2 separate regions of the Homo sapiens genome follow, and region 2 is linked to region 1. A link means that fine-mapping ties the variant in region 1 to the expression of a gene that starts in the linked region. Tissue or cell type: subcutaneous fat. Region 1 holds a variant in brackets; the other region holds the start of a gene. All regions are shown on one strand. Distances are from middle to middle.

The links. PIP is the estimated chance that this variant, and not a neighbour inherited with it, causes the effect.
Region 2: RIBC1 starts here. The variant in region 1 is fine-mapped to the expression of RIBC1 in subcutaneous fat (FUSION, PIP 0.93).

What each region holds. Positions count from the first base shown.
Region 1 is chrX:53,354,820-53,362,997 of GRCh38, forward strand. LOC124905191 (a long non-coding RNA gene) reads right to left here. Exons shown (of 2, transcript XR_007068243.1): 2 at 6,704-6,890. Among named protein-coding and RNA genes, the nearest start is that of IQSEC2, 38 kb to the left of the region's middle. The variant C/A (reference allele first, on the strand shown) is at 4,232.
Region 2 is chrX:53,419,172-53,427,349 of GRCh38, forward strand. RIBC1 (RIB43A domain with coiled-coils 1) reads left to right here and starts at 3,702. Exons shown (of 8, transcript NM_001031745.5): 1 at 3,702-3,833; 2 at 4,143-4,231; 3 at 7,106-7,222. The coding sequence starts at 7,106. It overlaps SMC1A (structural maintenance of chromosomes 1A), which reads right to left and starts at 3,483. Exons shown (of 25, transcript NM_006306.4): 1 at 3,321-3,483. The coding sequence starts at 3,429. RefSeq lists enhancers at 2,640-3,614, 2,731-2,910, 3,031-3,080, 3,271-3,450, 3,615-4,586 and 1 more.

The DNA.
Region 1 (8,178 bases):
TGGAGATCTGGGGAACTGAGGATAAGGAGTGAGAAAGAGACAGTTTTCACTGTATAACCTCTTGCGTCACTTGAAGGTTTTATCTTATGTGTGCATTACATACTCCAAAATTCCCCTCAAATACTATTGCTTCCCAAAAGCCTACCGTGCTTTCCCTTACTTCTCTCAAACAACAATCTCTCTTTATGCTATCTCCTAAAATTAGACATAGAGAAAATCAAACCTAAACCCTGGCCAAACAAATCTAAACAAAGCAAGAAAAAAATAAAATAAATGCCAAAACCCACGCAGAAAGGAATTCCGTAAGTATATCCACTCAAAGGAGTATTTTGTGGCCATTTAAATGATGTTTATAAAAATTTTAATGGGAAATGTTTATGTGAAAATGGCAGTATGTAATTGAACATACAGCATGATCCCAAATACGGTTTTTCTAAGCCTAGATAAAAGCCTAAATACACCAAGATACTAACATTGGTTGTATTTAGATGGTAGGACGTTTTTCTTTCCCTAAATTTTCATCAATGAACACATTACTTCCGGTGGGACAGAAGTCATCATTAGTTTGTTCAAGGCTCCTCTCTTGATTCCTTTCGTTTGTTAATTTTATTTTTTCTCCTGTATTTCTACTCCCTTTACACCCAAAGACAAACATTTCAATGTATTTAATGAATTTAGCTTCTAACATCAGAAACATTTGCACATGTGTATATATTTTAAGGAGTTCCTAAGAATTTTTTGAGACAGAGTCTTGCTCTGTCACCCAGGCTGGAGTGCAGTAGTGTGATCTTGGCTCACTGCAGCCTCCACTTCCCAGGCTCAAGTGGTCCTCCCACCTTGGCCTCCCAAGTAGTTGGGACTACAGGCGTGTGCCACCACACCTGGATAATTTTTGTTGTTGTTATTTTACAGACGGGGTCACAATATATTGTCCAGGCTGGTCTCAAGCTCCTGTCTTCAAGTAATCCACTCGCCTAGGCCTCCCAAAGCACTGGGATTACAGGTGTGAGCCACCCTGCCCAGCCTTTTTTTTTTTTTTTTTTTTTTTTAATACATAAAAAGTGCCCCATCTGGCCTGGCATTCTAGCTCTGGGCCATCCACTGCACAATGTCACAGTAGGTGCTCAAAATATAATTTCTTCTCTCTCTTCTACCTTGACAGCTATTTCTCTAAGACCCAGGTTCCAGGCACGACTTCGCCATTAACTACCCTGTTGTCCAAAGGGAATACTGAGAGGACGACACAATGTGAAAAGTGACGGAGTTGATCAGAGTTGGGCGCCCACCACATCGGTACTTAGCTGTGTAGCTTTGACAAGTCACCTAAGTCTCCCTGTGCCTCAGTTTTCTTACCTATAAGGGGGAGGGGAAATAATATCACCTACCTCATAAGGCCCTCACTTTCTATCCGCACTTCTCTTCTACCACGGCTCCCTGCTCAAGACCTATCTGGTTTGGGATCCTCGGCCACCTTACTCTGCGTCAGCTGACACAAGCCACGCCCCCATAAACCACGCCCCGGGGCGGAGGGAAAACTGTTGCTAGGCAACAAGTGACGTCACGCAGGCCCTCGGGCTAGAGTGCACAATCACAGAACTGAAAACAAATTTCATTCGTCATCCAACCATTCATGCTCCTGGATTCCTTCAATGCATATTCGCCGCCCCTTCCTTTTGGGACCATCCAGGTGCTGGGCTTTGCTGAAGACAGAATTCCTGCCCTCAGGGAGCTTCCTATCTGAAAGGAGAGAGAGCCCCAGACAACAGTTCTGCACGGTACAGGAGCAGAGGGGCGCTGTGGGAGCCCAGATGACAGGATCTCATCCAACTTGGGAACAAAGATAGGCTGCGTGAATAAAGTGACACTTCAACAGCTGAATTAATGGGGTTTGGGTGTCAGTGTGAAAGGCCTTTCATGCAGAAGACATTGCAAAGACACCTGGGGGGAAAAAAAAACTGGTGCAGTCTAGGAAGCACTTGTAGTTAGTTGCACTTATAGTTATGTGCTCAGTGGTCAGAGCACAGGGTGTGAGGCCAAGAGTGGCAGGTGATGAGACTCAAGAGGTCTGGCAGGGGCCAGAACTTATGTGACCTTAATGACCTATCAAGCAGCTAGACTTTACCCTGTGGGGTATGGAGTGTCATAGAAGGAAAGGTTGTGTTGACTAGCATCAATGCCCTCTTACTGCTGATGTGCCAAGTATTAGGTTGAAAATGGCCAGTCTGGAAGCCAGGGAGTAGATTTGGGGTCATTCATGTGAGGGATGTTGAGGCTGGAACAGGATAGTGGCAGAAGATGAGGAAAGAAGGTAGATTTGACGTACAGAAAGGAGAGACTCAACTGGACTTGGTGAGGAATCAGCTATGAGGAGACAGGAGGATTTTAGGCTGCACATAAGGCAGAGAACACAGAGGAAATTGCACAAGTTTAAGGGGGTGATTAAGACAAAGATAAGTGCCAGAGGAACTCTGAGGGCTGAGAAATCAGTGTGGGATAGAATGGGCAGAAACATGTAAAATGAGGAGGATCATTATGAGGAGGAGGGATTCGGGCTAAGACTCACTGTGTGACTTTGGACCAGTCACTATCTTTCTCTGGTCCTTTAGGTTTCCACCTGCTAAACTGGGAGATGGAGAATGATAATTGGGAGGAATGAATTACATAAGAGAATGTTCAAGAAATGCCTAGCCCTGTAGGCAATATGGATGGGAAGCATGTGGCAGGTTTGTTTGGTCCAGGGTGGGGTGGGGCTGGGCTGCCATTTGGGCAACAGCGATGCCACAGGCAGGAGGACACACATACATGCAGAAAAAAGAGGGCGCAGGGAAGGGGAAATGTGACCTGGGCACATGCATGTTGGATTTGAGGAGCTCAAAGGCCAAGGCAGTCAGAAGCCAAGGCAGTCAAATCAATGCTACTCTGGGAGGCCCTGTCTTGGCAGTTAGCAGAGAGGGGCTTCTCTGGACTGTGACTCCTAGACTGCCACTTCCTCAGGAAATATCCAGGTCTGCAAGGCCCGAGTCCTCTGGGTTTTGTTCCCAAGTCACCACCAGAATTGCTGTGTGAAGCTGAGTCTGTTCTGAACCACTCTGGGTCCAGGTTCCTCATATGAACAACACAAAAAGGCATGTGTGTGTTGGTGGGGAGGTGGACGAAACATTTCCAAAGGTCCCCTCCTGGTTTGTTATGCTTCAGTTCCATGGCCCTAAGTCCTTTTTAGAAAAGTCTAGACCTGTCTCTGACTTGCTGTGTGGCCTTGAGCCAGCTGCTGGACCTCTCTGGCCCTATTTTCATATCTGAAATATTAGGAGATTGGGGAGGAGAGTCTCCAACGTCCAATGATTCTCCCTAGAGGACGCTCACCCTCATCTCCAGCTGAAAGCTTCAGACAAATCAGAGGAAAGTGAGGCGCTGGTCACAGACCACCCCCCTTCCAAATCTTCCATCTTCTCCCACTGCCCTCCCCTCCGCACTGTCAGGAGCTTGCAGCACTGGCTTGCTTGCCAAACTTGTTGCCATGACAACGGGTTACAAATAACTCAGATGCAGACGAAGATTTTAACCCAAGAGCTGCTGGGCCAAGGGCTTCTTGCTCCCTCCTCAGACCAGACTGAGGGAACAATCTGATAGATTCTCACAAGATGGTCAAGGTTTCTCAGTGTCACAAGAAGAAGTCCTGGCATTCCAGGCCCTCCAAAACCCTGATTCAAATCTTTCCAATCACATTTGCCACTTGCTTCCATTAAAAAGCGATCACTCCAAAAAAATTAGCCAGGCGTGGTGGCACGCGCCTGTAGTCCCAGCTACTCGGGAGGCTGAGGCAGGAGAATCTCTTGAACCCGGGAGGCAGAGGTTGCAGGGAACTGAGAAAAAGCCACTGCACTCCGCCTGGGTGACAGAGTGAGACTCCGTCTCAAAAAAAGAAAAAAAAAAAGTGATCACTCCTATTTTTTTGACACCTACTGTATACCAAGCCCTGTGTTGGATGCTTTACATACAGTATCTAAGGAAATCTTCCCAGCACTCTATCAGGTAGACATGACTATTCTACCTGGGACTATATTTTATCTGGAACATTATTTTATAGAGAAGAAAATCGAGGCCCATGGATATGAATTGAGCAAGGAGGTCCAAAGACTCAGAATTCGGACGGGCGCGGTGGGTCATGCCTGTAATCCCAGCACTTTGGGAGGCCGAGGCAGGTGGATCACCTGAGGTCAGGAGTTCGAGA[C/A]CAGCCTGGCCAACATGGTGAAACCCCGTCTCTACTAAAAATACAAAAAAAATTAGTTGGGCGCAGTGGCGGTTGCCTGTAATCCCAGCTACTTGGGAGGCTGAGGCAGGAGAATCGCTTGAACCTGGGAGGCGGAGGTTGCAGTGAGCCGAGATCACACCATTGCACTCTAGCCTGGGCGACAAGAGCAAAACTCCGTCTCAAAAAAAAAAAAAAAAAAAGGAGTCAGAATTCAAACCCAAACCCATCAGATTCCCAAACCCAGGCTTTTTCTATTGCCAATGGTTCACGAATGTTGGTCTACAGACTTGGTGTATCCAGAAAATCTGGAGCAGTTAAAATTCAGATAGTACTGCCGTTCAAGAAGGTGGAATGCATTTGTTTTCTCTAATTCCTAAGACTCCACAAAATAAAAAGATCAAGGGTATAAACTCACAACTCCAAAGAAAACTGGAGGAGCTCCCATCAATGGGAGAGAGATTTCAACAACTTTCTGGCAAGCAGAAAGGGGGCGGGAGGGGTGGTAACTGAGAAGGCAGTGCAGGGGAAGGAATGAGCAGAGTCCACATGTGGGAAGGGATCCACCGGGAGAGAGCTCATCTACCCTGCCAAATCCTGGAGAGGTGCAGTAAAGGTATCCTGATGTGGGAGCAAGACATAAAGCCTCAAACATAATTGAAAGTGTGTGTTGGAACGGTTAATCTCCCCCAACTCAATGTTGGAACAGTTAATTTCCTCCTTATCTCCCCCATGCTCATGGGTAGAAATCACAGCAGCCAACAAGTCTCTACACTCCAGCAAAATATCAGCGGGTTCTCCAAAGAAACCAAACAGTCCCAAAGCAAAGGCCTCTATTTTCGGTACTTAGGGGTCCTCCAGCAGATTGTACAGGTCCTTACTCAGTCACTTTAATGGGACTTGACAAACACCTGCCCTTACACAGGGCTCCAAATCAATCAACTTTTTATTTATTTTTAAAATAGAGACCAGGTTTCTCCGTGTTGCCCAGGCTGGTCTCAAACTCCTGGGCTCAAATGATTCTCCCACCTTGGCCTCCCAAAGTGCAATGATTACAGGTGTGAGCCACCATGTCCGGCTCAACTTTTTATTGTGTTCTTCTTAAATCAATGGGCCAGGCTGGGCACGGTGGCTCACGCCTGTAATCCCAGCACTTTGGGAGGCCGAGGCAGGGAAATCACCTGAGGTCAGGAGTTTGAAAGCAGCCTGGCCAACATTGTGAAACCATGTCTCTACTAAAAATACAAAAATTAGCCGGGCATGGTGGCAGGCACCTGTAATCCCAGCTACCTGGGGGAGGCTAGGGCATGAGAATCGCTTGAACCCAGGAGGTGGAGGTTGCAGTGAGCCAAGATTGCGCCACTGCACTCCAGCCTGGGGGACAGAGCGAAACTCTGTCTTAAAAAAAAAAAATCGGCCGGGCGCGGTGGCTCACGCCTGTAATCCCAGCACTTTGGGAGGCCGAGGCGGGCGGATCACGAGGTCAGGAGATCGAGACCATCCTGGCTAACACGGTGAAACCTCGTATCTACTAAAAAATACAAAAAATTAGCCGGGCGTGCTGGCGGGTGCCTGTAGTCCCAGCTACTCCGGAGGCTGAGGCAGGAGAATGGTGTGAACCCGGCAGGCGGAGCTTGCAGTGAGCCGAGATCCACGCCACTGCACTCTAGACTGGGTGACAGAGCAAGACTCCGTCTCAAAAAAAAAAAAAAAAAATCAATGGACTGATAGGTTTGAACATTTGTGAAGAAATATGCTAATAGATTTATGAACGAACGGATGAAACAAATGGGAAAAACTAAGATTAGGCACATTTCCAATGTGGAAAAAGTCCAAGCAATTATTAAAATCAGGAATATAAAAAAATGAAAAAAAAGGTAATTATAGTATACTTCTTGGCTCTGTAGTGACTACTGATTTACTAGGAGTTTGGATATAAACATATTGGAAGAATGAAGGGAGGGAAAGTAGGGTGTGTGTGTGGAAGAGATAGAAAAGAGGTAAATCCTGTTCTACCATAAGATCTCAAGAGATAATGTCTCAGATTGCTAAGTTAAGAAATAATGGTGGCCAGGCACGGTGGCTCATGCCCGTAATCCCAGCACTTTGGGAGGCTGAGGTGGGCGGATCACTTGAGGTCAGGAGTTCGAGACCAGCTTGGCCAACATGGTGAAACCCTGTGTCTACTAAAAATACAAAAATTAGCTGGGTGTGGTGGCAGGCGCCTGTAATACCAGCTGCTCAGGAGGCTGAGGCAGGAGAAATGCTTGAACCTGGGAGGTGGAGGTTTTAGTGAGCCGAGATCGTGCCATTGCACTCCAGCCTGGGCATTGCAGCGAGACTCTGTCTCGAAAGAAAGAAAGAAAGAATGATATAAGCATATGACAAGGAACCATGGCGGTCCATCAAATAAAAATCATTTCAGCTACAAGTAACAAAAAACTCAACTGATAGTGGCTTAAACACATATGGCTTTATTTATTTTTTTAAGTTAACAGGAACTGTGGCATGGGTTCAGCTGCTCAATGATGCCATCAAGAAATTGGGCTCTTTCTGACTTTCTTCCTTCACATGTTGTCTTCTTCCTCGTGCTCATCCCCACATGGTCACAAGATGGCTGTCACAGCTCCAGACGGCTTGACTATATTCAAAGCAGAAAGAAAGAAGGGGACAACATCAGCTATTTGTGCCTCTGCTCAGAAAAGCAAATACTTTTTCAGAAGGCCCGCAGCAAACATCTCACTGGCCAAAGCCAGGTCACGTAGTCATCCTTAGCTGCAAGGGAGGCTAAGAAAGTATCTGGTTCTTCAGCCTCTGAGTGGGAGGTGGCAAGGAACAAGGGATTTGGAAGTAGTTGCCTCTAGGGAGCAGGACTTGCAGTGGGAAGGAGTAGGACAGGATATTGTTGGATTTTATTAGGCATCTCTTAGCACTGTTTTATTTTTTTAAGTATGTATATATATTCCTTTGATAAAAAATAAAAATTAGGCCATGTGTGGTCGCTCACACCTGTAATCCCAGCACTTTGGGAGGCCAAAGCGAGCGGATCACCTGAGGTCAGGAGTTCGAGACCAGCCTGGCCAACATGGTGAAACCCTGTCTCTATTAAAAATACAAAACTTAGCCAGGCATGGTGACACACATCTGTAATCCCAGCTACTCCAAAGACTGAGGCAGGAGAATTGCTTGAACCCAGGAGGCCGAGGTTGCAGTGAGCCAAGATTGCGCCACTGCACTCTAGCCTGAGCAACAGAGCAAGACTCTGTCTCAAAAATAAATAAATAAAATTAAATTTAAATTAAAAAATAAAGTGTTATGGTTTCTATGAAAAAAGAAATCTTAAAAATAAAAGCTGGTAATAGTTTTCTATCTCCAGAGCAAAGGATAGCAATTCATCTTGGAAGCAAACTTACCAGAATACGCTCTTTACTTAGACTGAGGTATCTCAGGTATCCACCTACTGATCTTAGAGAAAATTGTGCTATCACTATTAACCTGAATGTGGCTGGTGGAAACCAGGACAGCTCTGTACAGCAGTTAACATGGGTTGACTGTGGTTAGACAGTCCTGGTGCAATTTCCTGTCTGCCATTTATTAGCTCTGTGACCCTGGGCAAATGACACCCGGGAGCTTCATTTTCCTTGTTTATGAAATGAAAGTAACTCAAGTGCCTGCCACAGAGTAAGCACTCAGCAAATATCCACTATGATTAAAATGTTAAATGTTCTGTGTACTGATATAATCTGGGTGTCCTTTACAGTACTATGCTTCCACTGAGTTAATTTTTTATCCTAAACATGAATTGGGACTAGATTCATGTTTAGTCCCAATTCATGTTGGGACTAAAATGCCAAAGTGAAAATTGTTTGTTTTTGAGAGGTATGTGTGCATATTTTTTCTCAGGCCTTTGCTCACAGAAGATACCCCAT
Region 2 (8,178 bases), 64 kb after region 1:
CCAACACCTTTCTACTCAGCCATAAAAACAGCAGCCCAAGTCCTTCCATAGAGACGGTATAAGACTATGATTAGGTTGGACACGGCATCTCACGCCTGTAATCCCAGCACTCTGGGAAGCAGACGTGGGTGGATCACTTGACCTCGGGAGTTTGAGACCAGCCTGGACAACATGGCAAAATCCCATCTCTACAAAAAATACAAAAATTGGCTCGGCATGGTGGCACACTCCAGTTGTCCTGACTACTGGGAAGGCTGAGATGGGAGGGTTGCTTGAGCCCGAGAAGTTGAGGCTGCAGTGAGCCATGATTGTGCCACTGTATGCCAGCCTTGGTGACAGAGCAAGACCCTGACTCCAAAAAAAAAAAAAATAGGCCAGGCGCGGTGGCTCACACCTGTAATCGCAGCACTTTGGGAGGCCCAGGTGGGCAGATCACGGGGTCAGGAGTTTGAGACCAGCCTGAACAACGTGGTGAAACCCCGTCTCTACTAAAAATACAAAAACTGGCCGGGCATAGTGGTGCACGCCTGTAATCCCAGCTCCTCAGGAGGCTGAGGCAGGAGAATAGCTTGAACCCGGGAGGCAGAGGTTGCAGTGAGCTGAGATCACGCCACTGCACTCCAGCCTGGGCGACAGAGAAAGACTTCATCTCAAAAAAAAAAAAAAGAAAAAAAAGAAAAGAATCACTTGAACCCAGCAGGCAGAAGTTGCAGTGAGCCGAGGTCATGCCACTGCACTCCAGTGTGGGCGTCAGAGTGAGACTCCATCTAAAAAAGCTTGCAAACTTGGGCTTAGAACCAACAGACCAGGTTCTAATCTTACTTTCACTACCACTTAGCTGACCTTCCATTCCCTCACCTGGAAAAAGATGAAAAAAACCACAATTCACGGGTCTAAAAATATGTGCGGCACATACTTCTCTATTGGAGTGGCAGGAGCACAGGCATGGGTTCTGAGAACCACGGACAAGTTATCACACCTCTGTGCCTTAGTCTCCTCATGTATAAAACGAAGCTATTGGCATTTTCCTCCTAGGGTCATTTTGAGAATTTAATTGTAAAGGGTCCCTTGGCTGGGTGCAGTGGCTCATGCCTGTAATCCCAGCACTTTGGGAGGCTGAGGCAGGCAGATCACTTGAGCCCAGGAGTTTGAGACCAGCCTGGCCAACTGGGAGAAACACCAACTCTACTAAAAATACAAGAACTAGCCAGATGGGGTGGCGCACGCCTGTAGTCCCAGCTACTTGGGAGGCTGAGGCACGAGAATCACTTGAACCCAAGAGGCAGAGGTTGCAGTGAGCCAACATCATGCCACTGCACTCCAGCCTGGACAACAGAGCAAGACTGTCTCAAAAAAAAAAAAAAAGAAAAGAAAAAGAAAAAGAAAAAACAGGGTCCCAATAAATAAAGTACTTGACACACAGAGTAGGTACTCAATTAATTAGTCCTATCCTAAGTCTGGACTCAGCTGTCTCCCTCATCACAGCAGGACTAGCACATCATGCAGACCAGGAGTCAGCCTTTTAGGAACCAATATCCAACCTTTGGGCTTCTCCCATCATTTCCAGGGAGGACAACATCATCTCACAACCCCAAGCCTCTCTAATCACAATCAATATGGTAAACATTTTTGTAATATATATTATGGACTGAACACCAGTAAAACGTTTCAAGGAATGTCTGCTTTAGGGTACTCACAGGCCAATGAAGATACAAAAACATGCACCATCAATATAGGACTTAATAAACATTAACGTGTACCAAGTGTCTACGGTATGCCACAGAGGAAGACTCACTCACCAAAGGGACTAAAGGAATGGCTTGTAGAGGTGGGCCTTGAAGAACGGGGGCAAGTGGGGGAGTGCCATAGCCCTTTTCAGAACAGCTGGGAATACAAATCTACTAATGCTGAGGGGACTGAATGCCAAGAGGTACATCCTAGCTCTTCCAACAGGGGCCACTACACTAAAACCCGAGGAAACTGGGTGGACACCAAGCATTAGCCCTCCAGGCCAGTGGTTCTCAAACAAGTTGGGGGGTTGGGGGAATCACACACACCCTCTGTGACATCTAGCAATGTCTAGAGACAGTTTTGATTGTCATGCCTGGGGAGCAGGGGTGCTACTGTTATCTAGCAGGTAGATGCCAGAGATGCTGTTAAACATCCTACAATGCACAGAGCACATCCCACAGCAAAGGATTATCTCGCTGGAAATGTCAATAGTGCCACTGTTGAGACACTCAGTCTCCAGGAAAGGTACTCAGTATGTGCTACTTCAGCAAGGGCAGCCTCTTAGGCTAGGATATCATTCAGCTAGAACATCTCTGGGGTGGAAGAATACAGCAGGATTCCAAATGGACATCTGAGGTGAGAGGAATCCACGGTGTATCGTTTAGAGTTGGGAAGACACAAAATAGAGGCTTTACCTGACCACCCTTTCTAAAGACACCACCTAAGTCACTTTATCACATCCACCTGTCTCATTTCCTGTATAGCACTTATGACAGCCTAAAACCATCTTATTTTCTCCTTATCTTCTTTCCCCTCTGGAATATAAGTTCCCTGTGAGCATGGAGTTGGTTTATTCTATTCTCCGCTGTTTCCACAACTTGCAACTGAATAACTCCTGATAAACAATAAGCATTCAACAAATTTGGTAAATTAGTTAATTTCGGCTTTTGACGGTTTCGGTGGTAGGAAAAGGGCGAGTTCGAGGCAACTACCTCTGACATAGCGGTGGGGGGTGGGGATCGACACCTCAAGCATTCTAAAGACTGGAGCGCTGGGTCTGAAATTCAAAAGTGCCGCCTCCAGAGAAGAGTAGAAAGGAGTTGGAGTGTACCAATGCGAGGCGAGAGAGGACGCTGGGCTGAAACAGAAGTGCACCGTTTGGGACCGAAGGCCACGGGAGAGCTACCAGCGTCCCCACATTCTCCGGAGGGGGTCAAGTAAGGCTGGGAAGCCGGCTCCGGCCGGTCCGGCGGGGAGCCGCGCGGCGGAGGACTGAGCTGGCGGGAAGCTGGTTCCAGACGCGACTCCTTTGGCGGGAGGGGGAAGTAGGCGGGGTAACTGGCAGCTCGGCCTGTACCACTGGGCCGGGGCGGGGGCCGCGCAGGAAGCGGCAAGTGACACCTGGAAGGGGTTCGAGTTAGAGCACCCGCGCGGGGAGAGTGGGTTCGAGCAGAACCCCCTCTGGACGGGCAAGGAACCCGTAAGGGTCCGCGACGTTTCAGGTTACATGGGCTGGGTTGTACTACTCCGGCACCGGATAAGGGGTCCAGGCCGGGACGTGCGCAGGGCCGCGGCCAGGTTTATCTCACCAGAGCCATTGGGTCCAATGATGGCGGTGAACCTCTGAAATGGTCCGATAATCTGTCGACCCTTGTACGACTTAAAGTTCTCAATCTCAATCAGTTTCAGGAACCCCATGACGGCCGCGGCGCCGGCGGCAGTAGGACAGGCCGCGCCGTACGCCCGAGAACTGAGGTAGCCCGCGCGGGAAACGCCGCAGTGCAAGCCGGGCGACCGGCAAATGTCGCGAGAATACGTCCAGGCCTAACGGGATTTTCGCCTTCCGGCAGGAGTGGGACCAGGGGCGGGGACTGATGTTGCGTATACGAGGAGCGAGCTGACGACTGGCGTGGTGCCTCCGCCCCCCTTTCTTGTTGCATGGCAACAACAAACACTTGCTCCTGCGGACCAGATCCCCGGAGGAGTTGTTGCTGGGCGGAGTCAGAGCAGTTCTTGAGGTTCAAGGAGGCGGGGGAGACCTGAGCTCACGCTTGCTGAGACAGAAGTCACAGCAGGATTATGCCCCTCAGGGCAAGAGGAAGGTGGGAGCTCGGCTGTGGCTTTAGCCTGGCCAGCTTTCAAGGCTAGGACAAGGACAGGGTCGGGAATTGGAAGGACCCGGGGGGAGCGGAGAGCTGGACGGGAAGGAGGGGCCAACGGGAGGATTCAGTGTTAGGTGAGCTCAGACTTTGCTAATGGTGGGGTGGGATTGGTGGCGGGACGGGTTGCGAAGGCGGACGGGTTGTGAATGGGACTGGGGCTACTCCCAGGCAACAGGGATACAGGCTGGGGAAGGCTACGGCCTGAGATACTACCCCTATCCCCTGCCTCCCTCCTGTTGTACCAAGCAGAGTTCAGAAACTGCCGCCGTAACCCAAGAACAAAGTTGCATGCAGAGCCAACCTAAGAGCTTCAAAATCGGGATTCCTTACTGAGAAAGGTATTTTGTGTGAACCCCCAGGAGTCAGGGTCCCTAAGCCAGCGCTCTCCACCTCCACCTACCTCTGCCTCCATGCCTCTCCCCCATCCCATTCCCACAGCTCTATACCACAATGCCACCTTACCTCTCTTCCCTCTCTGCTCTCTATCATTAATAAGGCAGGGGCCTTAGCAATCCAAGAAGCTTAAAATGTCAGCTGAATCTTCCCCTTCAGTGACCTTATACTGTAATGGCAGGTGAAACCAGTAGGTAAGTTGGTGCCATTCTCAGACTTAAACATGGAAAGGATCTGGTGGTTGCCATAATTATTCCTTTAACTATTTATTAAATTATGTCCGAAGGCTAGAAAGAGTCCTAAAGACTTAGGACAAGTCCAGGAAAGTGAGGAAGTGGCTGGGCATGGTGGCTGACAACTGTAATCCCATCGTGAGGGAGGCAGGCCAAGGCAGGAGGATCACTTGAGACCAGCAGTTCAAGACCAGCCTGGGCAACATAGTGAGACCCTATCTCTACTAAAAATTAAAAAATTAGCTGGGTGTGGCAGCTCTCACCTCTGGTCTACCCAGGATGCCGAAGCAGGAGGATCACTTGAGCCTGGGAGGTTGAGGCTGTAGTGAGTGGTGTCCGCACCACTTCACTCCAGCCTAGGTGACAGAGCAATACCCTGTCTCAAAAATAAATAAAGGGAGGAAGCTTGGTAGATGGAATCTAGTAGGGGAGCCATAAATGAAGTTCAGCTGGGAGAAACAATCAGGCTGAGGGGATAAAATGGCTAAAAGACAGCAATCTCATGTAATCCATGGGGAAATACTGTTCCCTTTTAAAAGATGAGATGGTGAGCCTGGGTAACATAGCAAAACCCAATCTCTACAAAAAAATTTTAAAAATTAGGCAGGCATGGTGGCACACACCTGTAGTCCCAGCTACTCAGGAGGCTGGGGCAGGAAGATCCTTTGAGCCCAGGAGTTTGAGGCTGCAGTGAGCCATGATTGCACCACTACACTCCATCCTGGGCAACAGAGAGAGACCCCATCTAAAACAAATTAAAAATAAAATAAATTTTATTCTCTGCCTCAGCCTTCCAAGTAGCTAGGATTACAGGTGCCCACTGCCACGCCTGGCTAATTTTTTTGTATTTTTAGTAAAGACAGGGTTTCACTATGTTGGCCAGGCTGGTCTTGAACTCCTGACCTCCTGATCCACCTGCCTCGGCCTCCCAAAGTGCTGGGATTACAGGCGTGAGCCACCGCGCCCGGCCAAAAATAAAATAAAATTTTAAATTTAAAAAAGATGAGATGGCACTTGGGGGGAAAATTAAATTGGATCCTTATCTCACACCATACACAAAATGCAACTCCAAGTGGATTAAAAACCTAAGTGACGCCGGGCACAATGGCTCATGCCTGTAATACCAGCACTTTGGGAGGCCGAGGCAGGAGAATTGCTTGAGTTCAAGACTAGCTTGGGCAATATAGTGAGACCCCATCTATATTAAAAAAAATTAAATGGGGCCAGGTGTGGTGGCTCATGCCTGTAATCCCAGCACTTTGGGAGGCCAAGGAGGGTGGATCATAAGGTCAGGAGATTGAGACTATCCTGGCTAACACTGTGAAACCCCATCTCTACTAAAAATACAAAAATCAGCCGGGCATATATGTTCAACTACTTCACAGTTACAAAATGGAAAACAAAACAAAACACCAAAAAGATCCAAATAGCTATAGGAGGAATTAAAGAATCACGCTCCAAACAAAGGAACAGCACATACAAAGGCCCCGGGGTGGGAACAATTACTGTGTTGGAGGACTTGATCAGCTTGCCTGGAGCACTGTAAGCAAGGGAGACAGTGGTTTGAGACAAATTGGAGAGGTGTGCAGGAACTAGATCTTGAAAGCCCACAGTAAGGAGTTTGGATCTGATTCTAAGTATAGTGGGAAGCTAGTGGAGGATTTAAGCAGGTGAGAGACATGATCAGATTTATGTTTGCTAAAGTTTTTTTGGCTGCAGCTTTGGCTGGGTTACATGCCAAAAGTGAGCTTCCCAAAATATGAAGGAACACAGGCAAATTTAGCTTTCTAGCCTTTCATTTGACCAGAAAATAAGTAATAAAAGTAAAAAAAAAAAAAAAAAAAAAAAAAAGGGTGGGGGGACATATATTTCAGAAAAGAAAGCTGCTTCTGGTTTCTGTGATTGGGCTATAGGAGTCAATAGAGGAAGCTGGAATACCAACATGGAGACAGTTGTGGTTATTCAGGAAGCTGGCAATGGTGGCTTGGATAAGGGTTATTTTGAAAGAAGAAGGAGTGAGGGAAAGGAAGGATTAAAGGATGTCTCCTAGGTTTTTGACCGGAGCAACTTGGTGAATGGTGGTGCCACTTACTGAAATAAGGAAAACTGAATAGAGTATAATGAAAAAGGAGTGTTGTAGATGTGTTTGAGGCTTAGAAAGGTGAGCAGGGGTCAGATCATGAAGAACCTTATAAATCTGGCAAAGGGGGTTGGGCCTTATAAGCACTGGGGAGCCATTGCTTTAAAGGTGCTTTCAAAGGCTTTACGCTGAGGAGTGCCATGGTCAGATTTGCTTCCCAAAGATCACTCTGGTAGCCAGTGCAGAGAAATCCAGTGCAGAGAGGGTAACGTTGGAGCAAGAGAACCCAGTGGGGCTCCTGAGATACTGCCTGACACCAGATTGTGAGGCCTGAATTAAGCTGGTGACAGCAGAGATGGAGGGCACAGATACGAAATATATCAGGAAGTAAAATCAGTAGGAATCAATAACTGCTGAAATATTATAGGGAGAAAGGAATGGGGGTGGCGTGTAGTCAAAGACGGTGGTCGGCACTGATGGGCCATTCCACCTCCCTTTTGCTCCAGATGTATAACATAAAACAGTCAACAGATACCAAGGAAGCAGCAGCCATCGAGGCTAGAAGAAATCGAGAAAAAGAGCGACAAAACCGATTCTTCAATGTGCGGAACCGAGTCATGGGGGTGAGTGGGTAGTAGGGACTGTTGCTCAGGATCAGGGCCACCTCACTCTTACACCTGGAGAGGAATGTGTAACAGTGCCCATGATAGCCCTTCCCCTGATTCAAGTAGGCCCCTAGGGCAGGAAAGGAAAGAGAGGGAGAGAAGGCACCCACCCCTACAGGCCTGGGAAGAGCTTGGGAAGAGGGATAGGTCAGTGCAGGGGAAGAGACTAGGGGAGACGGCTGACCCTTCTCCAGTCAGCTCTGGGCCATGTGACCTGGTTCTTGAGACAGGCAACATGGAGCTAAAAGAGGCCTAAAGAATATTTGGAGTCCGGGTGCAGTGGCTTACACCTGTAATCCCAGCACTTTAGGAGGCTGAGGTGAGCAGATCACACAAGGTCAGGAGTTAAAGACCAGCCTGGCCAACGTGGTGAAACCCTGTCTCTACTGAAAATACAAAAATTAGCTGGGCGTGGTTGTGCATGCCTATAATCCCAGCTACTTGGGAGGCTGAAGCACAAGAATCACTTGAATCCAGGAGGAGCAGGTTACAGTGAGCCGAGATCACACCATTGCACTCCAGCCTGAGCAACAGTGAGACCCTGTCTCAAAATTACTGCATATACCTAAACTATCTCTGCAAGGCTATGTTGAGAAACTTAACCAGGCTGAGAGACAGAGATGGAAGGGACACTTACGCCTCACTAAACTGTATTCCTTTTTGTATGATTTTGAAATGTGATAAATGAATTATAATAAAAGAGAAAATATTGATAGTTTAAGAAACAAAAGATTGCTAGGTGAGTGGATAGAGGGGGGATGCAGCATGGTATTCTGGAAAAGACCCCGTAAGTATTTAAGGCCAGGTCTGCTGACTGTTATGTGTGTGGCTTTGGATAAATCACCTGTCTTCTCTGAGCCCCAGGCTCCTCTTCTGTAAAATGAGGCTGAAGGAAGTCAGGTGAGTGTTAACAC